Homo sapiens: one gene and its partner. The main gene of each other region encodes a partner of the protein of the gene in region 2 in a complex. Each region holds a gene or a part of one and is shown on either strand. Other genes may lie near its edges. A codon is read from its position in the direction of its gene.

Region 1 (8,349 bases), on a different chromosome or scaffold from region 2:
ACCTCAGCCTTTGCCACCACACCCAGCTAAGTTATACAGTTAAATCCCATGCAGCCACTAAAGAACTGACCTGACCCTTAACTTATTGAGTGGGTAAGTATTCCTAATGAAGATTAAGCTACAGAAATTGGGCACAGAAACAACGGCACAGAAAATGTCTGGAACGTTGTTCCCCAGACAGGTAACTGCTGCCAGCTCTGGGGAGGAGCTTACAGGTGGGAAGAGGTGCTGGTGCTTTCTACCAGATCCGGTCTGGCATTGCGTGAATTCACACATACAAAGCCGGGCAGCTTCATGACTGAAGTCCTGCTGAAGCCCGTATTGGCTCTGAGGGTCTAGGGCAAGCACAACCTCTCCTGCTGCAGGGCAGGCCGCTCACCTGACCCCAGGGTCCGCAGGGAGGAGCGATCATACTTCTTCACCCAGGCATCACCGTATTTCAGCAACAGCCGGACAGCCGTTGGGGCGCCATAGAACTGATTGATCTTCAACCTCTCTACTGTCTCCCAGTACCGACCTACAGAAAGGCCGAAATTCACTGTCAGCAGGAGAGCTGACATGGTTTACTTTAAACTCAGAGATCAGCCAAGACTTCCTGAGTGCTGGGCATGTGCAGACGCGCATATGTCCATATGAAAGGGATCCCCCCAACCCCCCACCCCCGCCAGTGAAAGATGGAAAGAAGCCCCATGGGACAGGTCCCCAATGGCCGCTCTCCTCCAAGCACTCCCCAGATCCATGGGCGGCACATTCAGGAACAGTCTTCACCAGGCTTAGGGTGATGGCCTAGTTCAAGGTGATACTACGTGGATTTAATAACCCATGGAGCATTAACACAGAGCTTTCACTCGATCACACTCACATGGGCTCTAAAGTGGTGACTGGTGCTTCCCCTGGTGACAGTACAGCTGCCACTGCGTGTGTCCCAGGGAGCAGGGCCATGTGCCCGGCATGCACACCCCTGGTTCCTGTAAACCCACTACCCACACCATCCCCTCCACATGGAACACTGAGCTTCTAAGGGCTGAAGTGGTGGCCTGAGACAGCACCTGGGCCATGGCCCTTAATCCCTGGTCTTGCCCCTACAACTTCTTCCTTGAGCACACCCAGCCCCCAAAGGCAGGGATGGAGCACTGGGAGGTGATAACACAGTCCATGCACAGTTGTCAGTGCCATGGAACACTGGAGCAGCAGCCTTTGGGCAGAGCCACCATGATCTGCTTACATTAAAGAAAATATTTGAAGACACTGTGCTGTGTGGGAGGACGATGCCCAAGGGAGCCAGTCATCACCTTGTCTTCAAAGTGATCTCAATTTAATGGAGATGGTTCTAGGCCATGCCTAACATGGTTTGAGGGACAGCCCTGAAGGCTCAGGGGCAGGGCTGGGGACACAGAAGTGGCGGGCAGCTGGCCCTGGCTTTGAGAAAGGGCTGGATCTGGGCAAGCAGCCTAGAGGTGAGAAGGATGCCAAAGCGATGGCCTGAGGCCGGCAGTTTAAGTCAGAGGGCAGGAGTGCAGGAGCAGGGGCCTTGAGATGTCCTCCAGCACCAAGTCAGACTCCCTGCTGCTGCCTGTCAGATCTTTCTGAAGACCTGGGGCCTGGCCCCACCGGGCATTTCGACAGCAGGACCTGGAGAGCCACACCCTCACCAGAACCCAGGCGTCCCCCTTCCATGAACCTCTCCACAAGCCTCGAGCCTCAGGCTCTCTCCCCTGACACCAGCATGGGGTCCCAAACAGGGTTCACCATCCTTACCAGCATTGGGATAAACTGGGGTGCTCTCAAAAAGGACGCTGGTGGCACCATTGCAGAGAGGCCCATACACCACGTAGCTGTGTCCTGTAATCCAACCGATGTCGGCCACACAGCCAAAGATGTCACCTGGCTGGTGGTCAAACACAAGCTGCAGAGACAGGAAAGGAGCATCAGGAGCTTGTCCCCCCACTCCACCATGTTCACACCAGGTCACTAGGAAATAGGCATGCATAGGCTGCAGTCCATAGCTGTGAGAGGCAGCTGGCTCCTCAAATGGCCTCCAGCAGCAGGACAGGTGGGCACACTGCAGAGTCCGTCTAGTTGTACGTTTAACACATGGACACCTTTTTGCATTACCTTATGCCACGATTTTTTAAACCCCTTAAGAACTACAAAAAATAAAAGCAAAAAAGGCCAAGAATGGCATCAAGCATCATCAGCTTCGAGGAGCATGAGAGGACAGACATCCGAATCCCCTTTATTCTTCCACAGCAACTGAGTGGAGCCTGATCCCATCTCAGGATCTAACTGCCCACGTGCAGGAAACACAGAGGCAGAGGGACAACAGGCACAACCCAGACCAAAGGACACCAGAGAAAAATGGCTGGATGTGACTATGGCCAAGTGTAAGGAAATGGGGGAGCATAGGCTTAAAAAGACTTAAAACACATATCAACAATATTTTAGGCCGGACACGGTGGCTCACACCTGTAATTCCAGCACTTGGAGAGGCCAAGGCGGGCAGATCACTTGAGGTCAGAAGTTCAAGACCAGCCTGACCAACATGGCAAAACCCTGTCTCTACTAAAAATACAAAAAAAAATTAGCAGGGTGTGGTGGCAGGTGCCTGTAATCCCAGCTACTCAGAAAGCTGAGACAGGAGAGTCACTTGAACCCAGGAGGCAAAGGTTGCAGTGATCTGAGATCACACCACTGCACTCTAACCTGGACAACAGAGTGAGACTCCATGAAAAAACAAAACAAAACAAAACAAAACAAAACAAAAGAAAAAACAATATTTTAATTGGCAACAGTAAGCTACAGTGCCCACGGATGCTCATATGGGTCACAAAACTATCAAAATAAAAACAGGGCAGGCGCACAAGACACATCAAGACATGCTGGACGGGGCTGTGGCCATATGGGCCTGGAAGGGGCTTCTGAGAAACCGGTGGCCTTCCACTTCTTGATCAAAGTGGCATTTGCCTTATAATAATTCATTAAGCCATGCATTTAATTTGGGTGGTTTTCTCTATCTGTTCTAAAAAGAGTTTTTAAAAATCTTTGGGCGAATGGCCCTTAGTGTCCTGCTGCCGCGTTACATGATCAGATTATCTGGGAGTTTCCAGACAGTGCAGTGGGGGCTTGAGGCAGCCAGGGCCCTGAGGAGCTGTAGGGTGGGAGGACTCGAGGGGGCCCTGCCCCGAATAGGCCAGGAAGAAACACTGACCTCTCACACCTACAGGCCTCGCTCTGCAGCAGGAGGACTTCCAGCCCTGCCCCTGCCTGGATCCCTGCCAAGGGCCCAGCACCGCCCGCACAGGCCTGTACCTTGTGAGTCAGGGCGGCATAGAGCAGGTAGCCTGCCTGGGTATGGACGATGCCCTTGGGCATTCCGGTGCTCCCTGAGGTGTACAGCATGAAGAGCATGTCCTCACTGCCCATGCTCTCTGGGGCGCAAACAGGGTCCTCCTTGGCCATTTCCTGGCAGGGAGAAGAAACAAACAGCCCACCGAGGGCACTCAGCCTCTCTGAGAGCAGCACTCCCCCTCCGCAGCAGGACTCCACACACAGGATTCAGAATTCACCTGCTCTGACCTGTCCAAGTTCAATTCCAAATGTGGAAAGGACACAAAACAAAAGCGTGGGTGCAAGCATTTGTGTTACAGTAAGTGTTCCAACATGCTTGTCGTATAGGAGTTTTATCTTCCCAGTCAGGACTCAAGCTCACCAAATACCACAGAGGAACCCTGGGCACCTCTAGGGAACCCAAATTGAGAACCACAACCCGAGAAGCCTCAGAGCCAGCTAACTTGATATGACCTCGCCTCAAACTGTGCAAAGCGAGGTAACCCACCTGCTCCAGCGGGACGTCCAGATCCCCCATGTGGACCTTGTTGTCTGTCCTGTGAGCCACCAGGACATGCTGCACGGTGGGGCAGTGCTTCACAGCCTCATCCACTATTTTCTTCAGCTCCACCACGCGCCCACCCCGGAGTCCTTGGTTGAAGGTGATAACCACCTTGCACTTGGCTAACAGAGACAACACAGACATTTCTGATCAGTCTCCTCCCGACTTTAACCCTCATAGCTCTGACTCACATAGGACATCCAGGCCTAGGAGTGTGAGAAACTCAGTCCAATCTTGAGTAAAAGACTCAATGGAAAAAGTGAGGGGCTGCCTGCTCTCCAGCCTTTGTGTGCCATGAAGAAGCACCAGGCCTTTGTCCAGTTCTGAGGCTGAGGGGAAGGAACCAGAGATAAATTACTTTGAAGCTCAGCTCTTCCTCCTTGAGTCAGCAGCATAAAGACAATTTCCCAACCAGACTTCCACCTTTCTCTCCTGTCTGCCCAGGAGCAAACCCCAGGAAAGAGGCCATCATGCCACCTGCAGCAATCAAGGTGACAGAGAAATACCGAGAGGCAGAGAACAAGAAAGCTGGACAACCAGAGGCCAAGCCCAAAGGTGTCCCATGTGGCCAGGCCCTGTCTAGAGTGACTTGTGTGGGCCAAGAGCCTTCACTGTCCAGAGATCAGAAACCACACCCCAGTGGATGACTGGGAGCTGCCTGCCCACCTTACCTTCAGGAGAAGGCCCTCCTGATCCCACACCTGCTCTTCAATGACCAATGTTGCTCAGCCAGGCCCAGGGGGAAGCCAGGAGGACCCTAGCTTCCATGGCTAACCTAGGGGTAGGCCCAGAGCAGAGAAGAGGGGTGCACGCACAGTGGGCCTCAAGACCCCAGGAAAAGGAGGTGTCCTCCACGCTGTGCCCCAGTGCGGGATGACCCAGAGGGATCACAGCTGCGGGGGGTTACTACACAGCCCCTCAGGAAGAGCCTGGGACAAATGCCCAGCTGTGACCCTGACTGGCAGGGCCTCACCCACATCCCTTGGGCCTTTCAGTCATTCTGCACCAAAGGCCTCTTGCAGAGCTATGGGCAGAAGTGCTGGGGAACCCTCGACCAATGGCTCTCCATAATTGGGGTACAAATCCTGCAACTCCCTACCCTTTGCATGGAGCCATTTGAGGCATGTGTGCCACATTCCCGTCCAGAGCCACCACTGCCCTACCACACTTCCAAGACAGACTCTGGCCTCAATGTCCCCTCTGGGAGAGTCCTACCTAAATAAATCTGAAAGCACTTTTGCACAACAGGCCCACCCTTTCTCCTCCTAAGAGCCCTGGAGATGTCATGGCCATGAGGGTTCCCTGAGAATTTTCCAGCACACACAGCACCATCCGGGGGTCAGAGAGATACCCTAGACCTGCCCAGATGCAGCCACCCCTGCATCTGGCACCAAGAGCCGTGGCTACACACACTCTTTGGCCTTCAAGCCTCAGCGATAGCTCACCTGGGGAAACCAAGTCAGTTGGGTGGAGCCTATCAGAGACTTTCCAGACCTACATCCCCAAGCAGGGGTTGGTCCAGGTAAGCCCCCTATGGGCGAGGAAGGGAGATGGACCAGCAGGAAGGAATGAACCTTTCTCAAGGGGACGGGAGACAAAGAAAGCTCATGGGGGTCAGAAGCTCTCACGATACAATGACCCCAGCCCATGCAACATGCTGAAATCACACTACACAGCAGGCAGTTCCTTCCCCACCTCCCAAGGCGCACACCTCACTCCTGACTCGCACCTGTCCAGGGCCTCCCTGCCCAGTAGGCTCTCCAGGAGGTCCTCTAGGAAGTACCCAGGAGCTTCTGAGCACCATGAGCATGTCTGGCCCACTGGCGCCCTCCAAGGCTGGGCCACAGCATGGGTGCTGGCAGGAACCACATGCCACTCTGGGAGGATTCAATTTTCTCTCCCTGGTTTTGAGCAGGTACCAGCATCTGCGTTCATTTTCTGCTGCTTCCATAACAAATGACCACAAACTTAGTGGCTCAGAACACTCATTTTTAGCTCAGAGTTCTGTCGTCTGGACAGGCTTGGTGGGGTTCTCTGTTAGAGTCTCACAAGGCCAAAGTCAAGGACAGGGCTGGCTCCTATGTGGTGGCTCTGGGGGAGTATCCACCTCCAGGCCATTTCAGTGGTTGGCAGAACTCAGTTCCACGCGACTGAGGGATTAAGGTCGCCTTTTCCTTGCTGACTGTCAGCCAGGGGTCATTCTCAGCGACTACAGCCACCACCTGCCCTGGTTCGTGGCCCTGTTTATCTTCAAAGCCAGCAACGGCGGGTAAAGTTGCTTTGAATCTCTCTGACCTCCCCTTCTGCTTCACTTCCTCTGCCTCTAGTTGGAGCAAGTTCTGTGCATTAAGGATGTGGGATTAGATGGAGCCCACCTGGATATCCTATTGCCTTATTCATATGTGCAAAGTCTTTCACCATGCAAGTGACATAGCACAGCTTCTGGGGGATTACAGTGTGGCCATCTGAGTGGGTCATTATTCTACCCCCACAGTCTCTCTCAAAGCCATTCTCCTGACCTCTACCCTCCCCTGCAACACTCTCCACTCCTCAAGCAGCCTAAAGCAAGAGGGAAGACAAATGAAGAGGGATGGTCCAACCCTGGAAGCCAGGCCAGGGGACTGAACTCTGGAACTGCACCTGCTGACTAAGGTGGCTGCCCAGACATGTGAGAGCCTAGCGGTCAGACTCACAATATACACCCACCTCCCAGTGGCCAACTGAAGATGGCTGCACATTCTTTCACCTGCTCTTATAGAGAAGCAGGATCCAGGTCTCCTCCCCTTGAATCTAGAATGGCCACGGACTGGTTCGGCCAATCTAGTAAGGCAAGAGTGATGCCAGGCCTGTGCCAGCCTGGACTGTAGGACACTGGCAGTTGCTATTTCCTTCCTCTTGGAGCCATGTGCTGCCATGTGACAAGCCTGACTGCTAAGGCTGCAAGGCTATGAGGAAGCCCAAGTCAGCCATGTGAAGAGGCCACGTGGAGAGAAAGACAGGCCCACCAGTCCCCAACCCTTCAAGTCAACCTGACTAATGTCCCAGATGTCATGGAGCAGAAAACAGCCATTCCCCTGTCCCCATCTGATTCCTGTCCCACAGACCCATGAAATAGAATACTAAAATTTATTGTTTTCAGTTTTATTAAACACTAAGTTTTGGAGTAGTTTGTGACACAGCAATAGAAAACCAAAACAGCCCCTCATTGACCCAACAGGACACAGATACCCATCTCAACAGAATCTTGTCCCCAGGAACCTGGTACCTGCAGAGCTGCACAAAAAGGCTGAAGGATATCAGGGCAGAGTCCTCTTCAGGACAGAGTCATGGCCCCTGCCCTCCCATGCTTGGTTGTTTAGGAATTCTGAGGTTCTGGGAGCTGCCCCAGCATCCAGCTACTAAATCCCCACATGATGAAGTCACCAAGAGTCAACTGCTATTGCTTGTTTCAAACAATCTCAACAGAAGCACTGGGTGACCATGGCCACACCAGCAAGAGAGAAAAGGGGCAGCTTAGCATAATGCTGAAAGCATCAACTATGGCAGCAGAATGTCTGTGTTCAACTCCTGGCTCTGTCACTTACTAGGTATGTGACCTTAGGTAAGTCACTTAAACTCTCTGTGTCTCAGTTTACCCATCTTCTTCCCTTTCTAAAGACCAGAACCAGATGACTTCACTGGTGAATTCTATGAAATATTTAAAGAATTAGCACCAATCCTTCTCAAACTCTTCCAAAAAATTGAAGAGGAGATACTTTCAAATTCATTTTATGAGGCCAGCATTACCCTGATACTAAAGCCAGACAAAGATTACTATAGAAAAGAAAACTACAGACAAATATCTCATATAAACAATGATACAAAACTCTTCCACAAAATGCTAGCAAACTGTATCCAGCAGCATATTAACAGAATATACTATGACCAATCAGGACTTACCCTAGGAAAGGAAGGGTGGTTCAACATGCAACAATTAATCACTGTAATACATCACACTACTACAATGAAGGAAAAAACACATCTCAATTGACGCAGAGCAAGCATTTGACAAAATCCAACACCCTTTGATGATCAAACACTTAAAACTAGGAATAGAAGGGAACTTAATGGATAAAGAGCATCTGAAAACCCACAGCTAACATCATATTAATGGTAAAAGACTGAAGCCTTCCCCCTAAGATCAGGAACAAAACAAGGATGCCCACTTTTCACCACTGCAATTCAACATTGTAAACAAAGTTGTTGCCAGAGTGATCAGGCAAAAAAAAAAAAAAAAAAGAAATAAAAGACATCCAAATTGGAAAAGAAGAAGTAAAACTATATTCAGAGATGATATGATCTACTATGTATAAATCCTAATGAATCCACAAAAAAACTATTTATTAGAGCTAATAAATCATTAAATTTGCAATATACAAGATCACTATGCAAAAATTGCTGTATCTCTACATATTAGCAAT
Region 2 (8,349 bases):
TTCCCATTAACCTGAATTTTTTGCTCCCAAGTAAGTCTTGATTTCTGATTTATGACTGCTTTTTGTTGTACCCCAATAGTCGTCTAAGAAAGGTGATTATTTTGAGAGGCCTGGGGAGACACACATGCTCATTCTCGAGGGTGGCGGTGGTGCAGAGGGCAGAGCCATGCTCGTTCTTGCTATCCTGAGATTGGTTGCTATCTGTTTCCTTTGCTGCTGTGTTTTTTTCTGTCAGTATTAAAGGTGGAAGAAGGTCCATATCTTTTTCTGTGGGTGCTTCAAGTGTTGTTGGAAGTGGAGGCAGCAGTGACAAGGGGAAGCTTTCCCTGCAGGATGTAGCTGAGCTGATTCGGGCCAGAGCCTGCCAGAGGGTGGTGGTCATGGTGGGGGCCGGCATCAGCACACCCAGTGGCATTCCAGACTTCAGGTACTGCCCACAGTCCCACCTGCCTTCTGCGCTCCCCTCCCCTGACTCCTGCCCTCCCCACTGCCCAGTTTATTCCACTTCCCTGTCCTCTTCCAAAGGCCTCAGAGCCTTTCTTCTCTCCCTGCAGATCGCCGGGGAGTGGCCTGTACAGCAACCTCCAGCAGTACGATCTCCCGTACCCCGAGGCCATTTTTGAACTCCCATTCTTCTTTCACAACCCCAAGCCCTTTTTCACTTTGGCCAAGGAGCTGTACCCTGGAAACTACAAGCCCAACGTCACTCACTACTTTCTCCGGCTGCTTCATGACAAGGGGCTGCTTCTGCGGCTCTACACGCAGAACATCGATGGGCTTGAGAGAGGTGAGCCCTCTGTGAGTCGCACACATTCTTTTTCTCCCACGGAGGCTCGGGTGCCTGTTTCTCCCAGGGAGGCTCGGGTGCCTGTTTCTCACAGGGGATGCTCGGGTGCCTGTTTCTGGGGACGGCCAAAACCTATCGCTTATGCTTCTTCCTTGGGACTTTTTTTGAGCCAACTAGTTAGGGCTTTGTTCCCAAGGAAAATGTCCTCTGGGTGTTTAAAGGCCACTGCTTGTTCTCCTGCATACCTGCAGAGCTGTGTATTTTGGGCAGAAGTTGACATTGTTTTGCCAATCTGGTGTGATGATCTCTTTTTTTCTTCTCTCTTTTAAGAAGTGTATTATGGAATTTTTTTGAGCACACACAAAGAGAGCAATGTAACGAACCGTCCTGTCCTCATCACCAGCACACAGCCAGTTCTTCCTGCGTCCTCACCACCTTCTTCCAAATCCCCAGATTATTTTGAAGCAAATCTCTCACATCATGAATTTAATCTAGAAATAATCTATAAACACATGAATGGATAGCTCTAGAGAATACTTTAAAAACAACTCCGGCCGGGTGCCGGATTACAGGTGTGGGATCACACCTGTAATCCCAGCATTTTGGGAGGCCGAGGCAGGTAGATCACCTGAGGTCGGGAGTTCGAGACCAGCCTGGCCAACGTGGCAAAACCCCGTCTCTACTAAAAATACAAAAAATTAGCCAGGCGTGGTGGTGTGTGCCTGTAATCCCAGGTACTCGGGAGGCTGAGACAGGAGAATCTCTTGAACCCAGCAGGCGGAGGTTGCAGTGAGCCGAGATCGTGCCACTTCACTCCAGCCTGGGCGACAGAGGGAGATTCTGTCTCAAAAAAATAAATAAAAATAAAAATAATTAAAAAATAAAAACAACTCTGATAGTGATTCACACTGAAGAATCACTAGTAATTCCTTAATATGGTCACACTTAGTCTGTGGTGATTTCTTGACCGTATCCATATGGTGCCCAAACCAGCGATTCACAGGTTGTGCCAACTTCTGGCCGTGCACCTAACGGAAGCACTTGGTGGGGCCTTTTCCTTACGTGCAGTGATGCAGACAGGTGCTGGGACAGTCAGCTCTCCGGGAGCCAGGCTCCCGGAGAGACTGCTGATGTGTTGTCAGTTAAAAAGAGGTGGCACCTTGGCTCCAGGAATGTGTTTCCTTGCCAGAAGGATCCCCTGACTTGGAACCACAGAGGCAGCAGCGGATGCCCCATGTTGGTGGGCTCTTCTCCCAGAGGTGCAGCAGGGCAGGCCTTGTGGGAAGGTGGGAGCTCCTGGCTGTGAGATTCAGCACTGCTGAGTTAGGGCAGCGACAGGGACTTGGGAAGCCTCCTGCAGCTGGGACCCTGGCTGTGCCACCGCAGCCTTTCAGAACCAGTTAATACTAACACAACTTTCATAAGAAGTCACTTTTTGTCTGTTTCTACCAAGCAATTCTTTTGGAATTTATGATATTTATATCCTCATTTTAACTTGGTATCTGTAGAATAGAAGATATGTTCCTGGATATTAGATATAAATTTTTGAGACAGGGTCTTGGCTCTGTTGCCCAGGCTAGAGTGCAGTGGCATGATCATAGCTCACTATAGCCTGAACTCTTGGGCCGAAGTGATCCTTTTGCCTCAGCCTCTGGAATAGCTGGGACTACGGGCATGCACTACCATGCCTGGCTAATTAAAAAAATTTTTTAAGACAAGTCTCACTATGTTGCTGAGGCTGGTCTCAAACTCCTGGCCTCAAGTGATCCTCCTGCCTTGGCCTTCCAAAGCACTGGGATTACAGGCATGAGCCACTGCACCCAGCCTGGTATTAGGTGTAATTTTTTTTTTTTTTTTTGAGACAGAATCTCGCTCTCTTACCCAAACTGGAGTGCGGTGGCACGACCTCAGCTCACTGCAACTTCCACCTCCCGGGTTCAAGCGATTCTCCTGTCTCAGCCTCCCCGAGTAGCTGGCACTACAGGTGCCTGCCACCACATCTGGCTAATTTTTGTATTTTTAGTAGAGGTACGGTTTCACCATGATGGCCAGGCCGGTCTTGAACTCCTAGCCTCAAATGATCTGCCCACCTCGGCCTCCCAAAGTGCTGGGATTACAGGTGTGGGCCACTGTGCCCGGCTGGATATAATTTTATTTGAGCTTTTATCAAATGGTTTTTCGTACTGAGTTTTGACAGGCTTTGTTTTAACCGTGATTTGGCTCCAGCTAGGTGCCCCTTTGCTCCCCTGCCTTATTCTGGTTGATGGCGCATGTAGGTGATACGGGCATGAAAACCAGGCTTGAGGACATCACAACCCCAAGGGGCTGTGCCTCCTTCCAGGAGTCCTGCCAAGCCCAGAAGTTGTGCTCTTGGCCTTGCGTGCTCATCTCGGAGGCGGCAGCAACACTTCGCTTTGGCTTGAATTTCAGTGTCGGGCATCCCTGCCTCAAAGCTGGTTGAAGCTCATGGAACCTTTGCCTCTGCCACCTGCACAGTCTGCCAAAGACCCTTCCCAGGGGAGGACATTCGGGTGAGTTATCCTGCTGTTGGTTGTCCTTCTGCAGTTTGCTGTTGGGGTGATCTGGAAAAGTGGTATTTTATAAGCATTGTCTCGAAAGGACAGTTGAACAATAATAGTGTGAAACATTTTATTTGTAAATTAGAAAATCAATACATGCTTGTAAAAAAATTTAAGACAATATAGAAATATGTAGGGAAAATGAATCTCCCTTCAGCCAATTCCAGCTGCCCACTTTTTTTTTTTTTTTTTGAGATTGAGTCTCACTCTGTCGCCCAGGCTGGAGTGCAGTGGGCGATCTCGGCTCACTGCAACCTCCGTCTCCCGGATTCAAGGAATTCTTCTGCCTCAGCCTCCTAAGTAGCTGGGATTACAGGCGTGAGCCACCACGCCCGGCAATCAGATGGCCTTTTGTGCCGAGCTTATTTCCTGAAAATGTTTCTCGCTCCTTCGCCTTGTAGCTTGTGTTAGTATTTCATCCTGTTTCATGGCTAAATGTTCCACTGATGTATGCACCACAGTTGGTTTGTTTGTACATGGATGGGTGTTTGGGTTGTCCCACCTTTCTGCTCTTGTGTATAGTTCTGCTGTGGAGCATATGCAAGTATTCGTTTGAGAGTCCTTGTTTTTTATTCTTTTGAGTATGATACCTACAAGTATTGCTGGGTAACTCCACGTTTAGCTATATTTATTTATTTATTTTTTGAGACACAGTCTTACACTGTCACCCAGGCTGGAGTGCAATGGCGCGATTTCGGCTCAATACAACCTCTGCCTCCCGGGTTCAAGCGATTCTCCTGCCTCAGCCTCCTGAGAAGCTGGGATTACAGGTGCCTGCCACCATGCCCAGCTAATGTTTTTTGTATTTCTAGTAGAGATGGGGTTTCACCATGTTGGCCAGGCTGCTCTTGCATTCCTGACCTCAGGTGGTTCACCCGCCTCGGCCTCCCAAAGTGCTAAGATTACAGGCGTGAGCCACCATGCCCTGCCCATGTTTAACTTTTTTGTTTGTTTGTTTTGAGACGGAGTCTAGCTCTTATCACCAGGCTGGAGTGCAGTGGCGCAATCTCGGCTCACTGTACCATCCGCCTCCTGGGTTCAAGCGATTCTCCTGCCTCAGCTTCCTGAGTAGCTGGGACTACAGGCACACACCACCACGCCCGGCTAATTTTTGTATTTAGTAGAGTAGTTTCACCATGTTGGCCAGGATGTCTCGATCTCTTGACCTCGTGATCCGCCTGCCTCTTTCTCCCAAAGTGTGGGATTACAGGCGAGAGCCACTGCGCCCGGCCCGTTTTAACTTTTTGAGGAACGAATATACTGTTATCTGCAGAAGCTGGACCATTTTACATTCCACCAACAGTGGGCAAGGGTTTCATCTTTTCCACATCCCAACACTTACTTTCCATTTTTTAATTACAGCTATCCCAGTGGGTGGGAGGTGGTAACCCACTGTAGCACTGATTGGCATTTTCCTAATGATTCATGATATCAAACATCTTTCCATGTGCTTTTTGGCCATTTGTATATCTTTGGAGATTGAAGTCCTTTGCGCATTGTTTAATTGTGTTGTCTTTTTTATTGTTAAGAGAGTCCTTTATATATTCTGGAAGCTAGATCCTTATCAGAGACATGATTTGCAAATATTTTCTGTCATTCTGTAGGTTGTCTTTTTTACTTTGTTGATGTCTTTTGATGCATAGAAGTTTTGATTTTGATGAAATCTAGTTTGTCTATTTATTTTCTCACTCTTTTGGAATCATATCTGAGAAATGGTATTGTTTTACTCCTGTTTTCTTATAAGAGTTTTATAGTTTAAAGCTTTTACATTTAGTTCTTTGATCCATTTTGAGTTAATTTTTGTGTGCGCTGTAAGGTAGGGATCCAGCTTCATTTTCTTTTATGTGGATATGTAATTGTTCCAGCACCATTTGTTTAAAAAAACTGTGGTCTTGGCATTGTTGTTGAAAATCAGTTGGCCATAGGTGTATGGGTTATTTCTAGAGTCTCAATTCTATTCCATTGTTATCTGTATATCCTTGTGCCTGCACTATAATGTTTTGGTTACTGTAGCTTTGTAGTAAGTTTTGAAATTAGGAAGTGTGAGTCCAGCACATAGTAGAAACTTGATATATACGTATTATTGTTTTGGTCAACTCATTCATTGAATGACCAATTTATTCAACAAATAGTTTAGTCTCCTCAGTGCCAGGCCCTTTGCTGGGTTCTGTGGATGTGAATAGAAATTAAAATAAGGTGGAGTCATCCAACAGTTACAACTGGGTGCCATACGAATTTTACTATAAATATGTACTGGACACTACACTGACTCAGCTGTAGGAACAGAGTAGGCTGGGAAGCACCTTTGAGATGAGGCCGTCTGGATGTAAGAGTCTGTTTCTGGCAGCAGAGACCTGGAGTGTGGGAGGCCTGCTTGCTCTGTTAGGGTTTGAACTGTATCCTGACGATCATGGGAGGCATTGGAGGATTTTTAGGCAGGAAAATGATGTGAAGGGATTTGCATTTAAAAGAGATTATTTGGGACTGGGCACAGTGGCTCACGCCTGTAATTCCAGCACTTTGGGAGGCCTAGACAGGCGGGTCACCTGAGGTGGGAAGCTTGAGAGCAGCCTGCCAAAATGGTGAAATCCCATCTCTACTAAAAATACAAAAATTAGCCAGGTGTGGTGGTGCACCTGTAATCCCAGCTACTCAGGAGGCTGAGGCAGAAGAATTGCTTGAACCTGGGAGGGGAGGTTGCTGTGAGCTGAGATCGCACCACTGCACTCCAGCCTGGGTGACAGAGTGAGACTCCATCTCAAAACAAAATAAATAAATAAATAAGAGAATAAAATAGATAATTTGGGCAACAGGTTGATGTTAATTCCCCACCTTTGTTCTTCTCCTTCAGTACTGTGTTGGCTGGTCTGAATCTTTTGGCTTTTCATATAAATTTCTGAAACTGTTGCTATCTGTTCTCTGCCTGTTTTATTTTTGTTGTTGTTGTTTGGATTTTTTGTTTTTTTGAGATAGAGTCTTGCTCTGTTGCCCAGGCTGGAGTGCAGTGGTATGATCTCAGCTCATTGCAACCTCCCCCTCTCAGGTTCAAGCGATTCTCTTGCCTCATCCTCCTGAGTAGCTGGGATTGCAGGCATGCGCCACCATGCCCAGCTAATTTTTGTATTTTTAGTAGAGATGGGGTTTCACTATGTTGGTGAGGCTGGTGTCGAACTCCTGACCTCATGATCCACCCGCCTCGGCCTCCCAAAGTGCTGGGATGACAGGCATGAGCCACCGTGTCTGGCCTCTCTGCCTGTTTTTTAAGACTTTTGTCTTTGGAGTTTTGCGGTTTCTCCACTGTGGTTTTCCATATGAATTTTCTTTTATTTCTTCTGCTTAAAATTTGTAGGCCAGTTGGTCATGGTGGCTCACGCCCGTAATCCCAGTACTTTGGGAGGCCGGGTGGGTGGATCGCCTGAGGTCAGGAGTTTGAGACCAGCCTGACCAACATGGAGAAACCCCATATCTACTAAAAATACAAAATTAGCCGGGCGTGATGGTGCATGCCTATAATCTCAGATACTCGGGAGGCTGAGGCAGGCGAATTGCTTGAACCAGGGAGGCGGAGGTTGCGGTGAGCTGAGATTAGGCCATTGCACTCCAGCCTGGGAAACAAGAGCGAAACTCCATCTCAAAAAAAAAAAAATAATAATAATAATTGTAGGCCTTCCTTAAGAAAAATAAAATAAAATTCTAGGCTGGGCGCGGTGGCTCCTGCCTGTAATCCCAGTACTTTGGGAAGCTGAGGCGGGTGGATCACCTGAGTTAGGAGTTTGAGACCAGCCTGGCCAACATGGTGAAACCCCGTCTCTACTAAAAATACAAAGATGAGCCATTTGTGGTGGCACCCATCTGTAATCCCAGCTACTCGGGAGGCTGAGGCAGGAGAATTGCTGGAACCCAGGAGGCAGAAGTTGTAGTGAACCGAGATCATGCCACTGCACTCCAGCCTGGGTGACAGAGCGAGATGCCATCTCAAAAAAATAAAATATAAAATAAAATTCTAAGCCCTGCAACCAACTGAATGGAGCCCTCCCCTTGGTCAAGGGAACCCCAGAGAAACCTTGGAAGCTTGAGTTCCTGGCCGTAGCAGGAGAGGAGGTCAGACGCGCCTCACTGTACCCCTCCCTCCCCAGCCACCATTAGGCTTCTTCACTAAGGGCTAAACAGAAACCAGCCCTTTTCAAAGACTCTACACTGCTAATGTGGATTACTGGTTTATCTTCCCAGATACAGATTAAAGACAAGATGAGATTAATGGTTCCTTCACCCTTCCCTGAGAGGTCTGCTTAGTTCTCTTCCTCTGTTTCCTTCTATCTTAGGTAAAATGTACATTTACTGGGCACTTACTGAAGTCTCACAAGTACGTAACCACTCACCTCACAGCCACCCTCCCTCTTTGAAGGACCACATGTAATTACTAAACCTCCTGAGAACCTCTTGGGACAGAAACAAGCACAGATGTGCCGTGACTCATGTTTTTCCTGTGGGCACCCTCAGGCTGGCTCAGTAGCCCTCACTTGCTTGAGATCCTGAATCTGCGGGTTGGCGTCTTTCATGGTTGCTGGATCATACTCTGCCGTTATCTCTTCGGATATGAGTTGCCCCTAGCCCACTATCTGGCCCCTCTCTTTAGGGACCTCTGATTGAACATACATTAGACCTTCTCTCTCCTGCTGTTCCTGATCACTCTTCTGTCCTGTAATTGCTGCTTCTTGTGCTGCATTCTGGGTAATTTCTTCTGGTCTTTTTTCCAGTTTACTAATATTGTATTCTGTTATAAGGTCCTTCCATTGAGTGTTTCTTTCTTTCTTTTTTCCCAAACAGCAACTCAAAACAGACATTGAGTTTTAATTTTGGTTCCTGTACTTTTTATTTCTAGAAGTTCTATTTGGTTATTTTTCAAGTCTGCTACATTATTACATAATTTTTTAATAATTTTATATCTTTAATAGATAGTTTTTTGTTTTGTTTTGTTTTGTT

Evidence for each region.
Region 1: the proteins of SIRT3 (region 2) and ACSS1 are in contact, whole or in part, in a crystal structure (PDB 3GLT), measured with the Homo sapiens proteins. Residues at the interface, in NP_036371.1 of Homo sapiens: Gly145, Ala146, Gly147, Thr150, Pro151, Asp156, Phe157, Arg158, Ser159 (codon at 556), Glu177 (codon at 610), Phe180 (codon at 619), Gln228 (codon at 763), Asn229 (codon at 766), Ile230 (codon at 769), His248 (codon at 3,253), Ile291, Val292, Phe293, Phe294, Gly295, Glu296, Pro297, Leu298, Gly319, Thr320, Ser321, Leu322, Glu323, Val324, Glu325; in NP_115890.2 of Homo sapiens: Ser640, Gly641, Lys642, Val643, Met644, Arg645.

The regions. Positions count from the first base shown.
Region 1 is NC_000020.11:25,019,631-25,027,979, forward strand, and holds part of ACSS1 (acetyl-coenzyme A synthetase 2-like, mitochondrial isoform 1 precursor), read right to left. Parts: intron 4,012-8,349; coding exon 3,836-4,011; intron 3,463-3,835; coding exon 3,310-3,462; intron 1,907-3,309; coding exon 1,759-1,906; intron 518-1,758; coding exon 380-517; intron 1-379. UniProt on the Homo sapiens protein: Catalyzes the synthesis of acetyl-CoA from short-chain fatty acids. Acetate is the preferred substrate. Can also utilize propionate with a much lower affinity. Provides acetyl-CoA that is utilized mainly for oxidation under ketogenic conditions.
Region 2 is NC_000011.10:225,421-233,769, reverse strand, and holds part of SIRT3 (NAD-dependent protein deacetylase sirtuin-3, mitochondrial), read left to right. Parts: exon of another isoform or gene 1-30; intron 31-235; coding exon 236-427; intron 428-554; coding exon 555-787; intron 788-3,063; exon of another isoform or gene 3,064-3,217; coding exon 3,218-3,318; intron 3,319-7,688; exon of another isoform or gene 7,689-8,097; intron 8,098-8,349.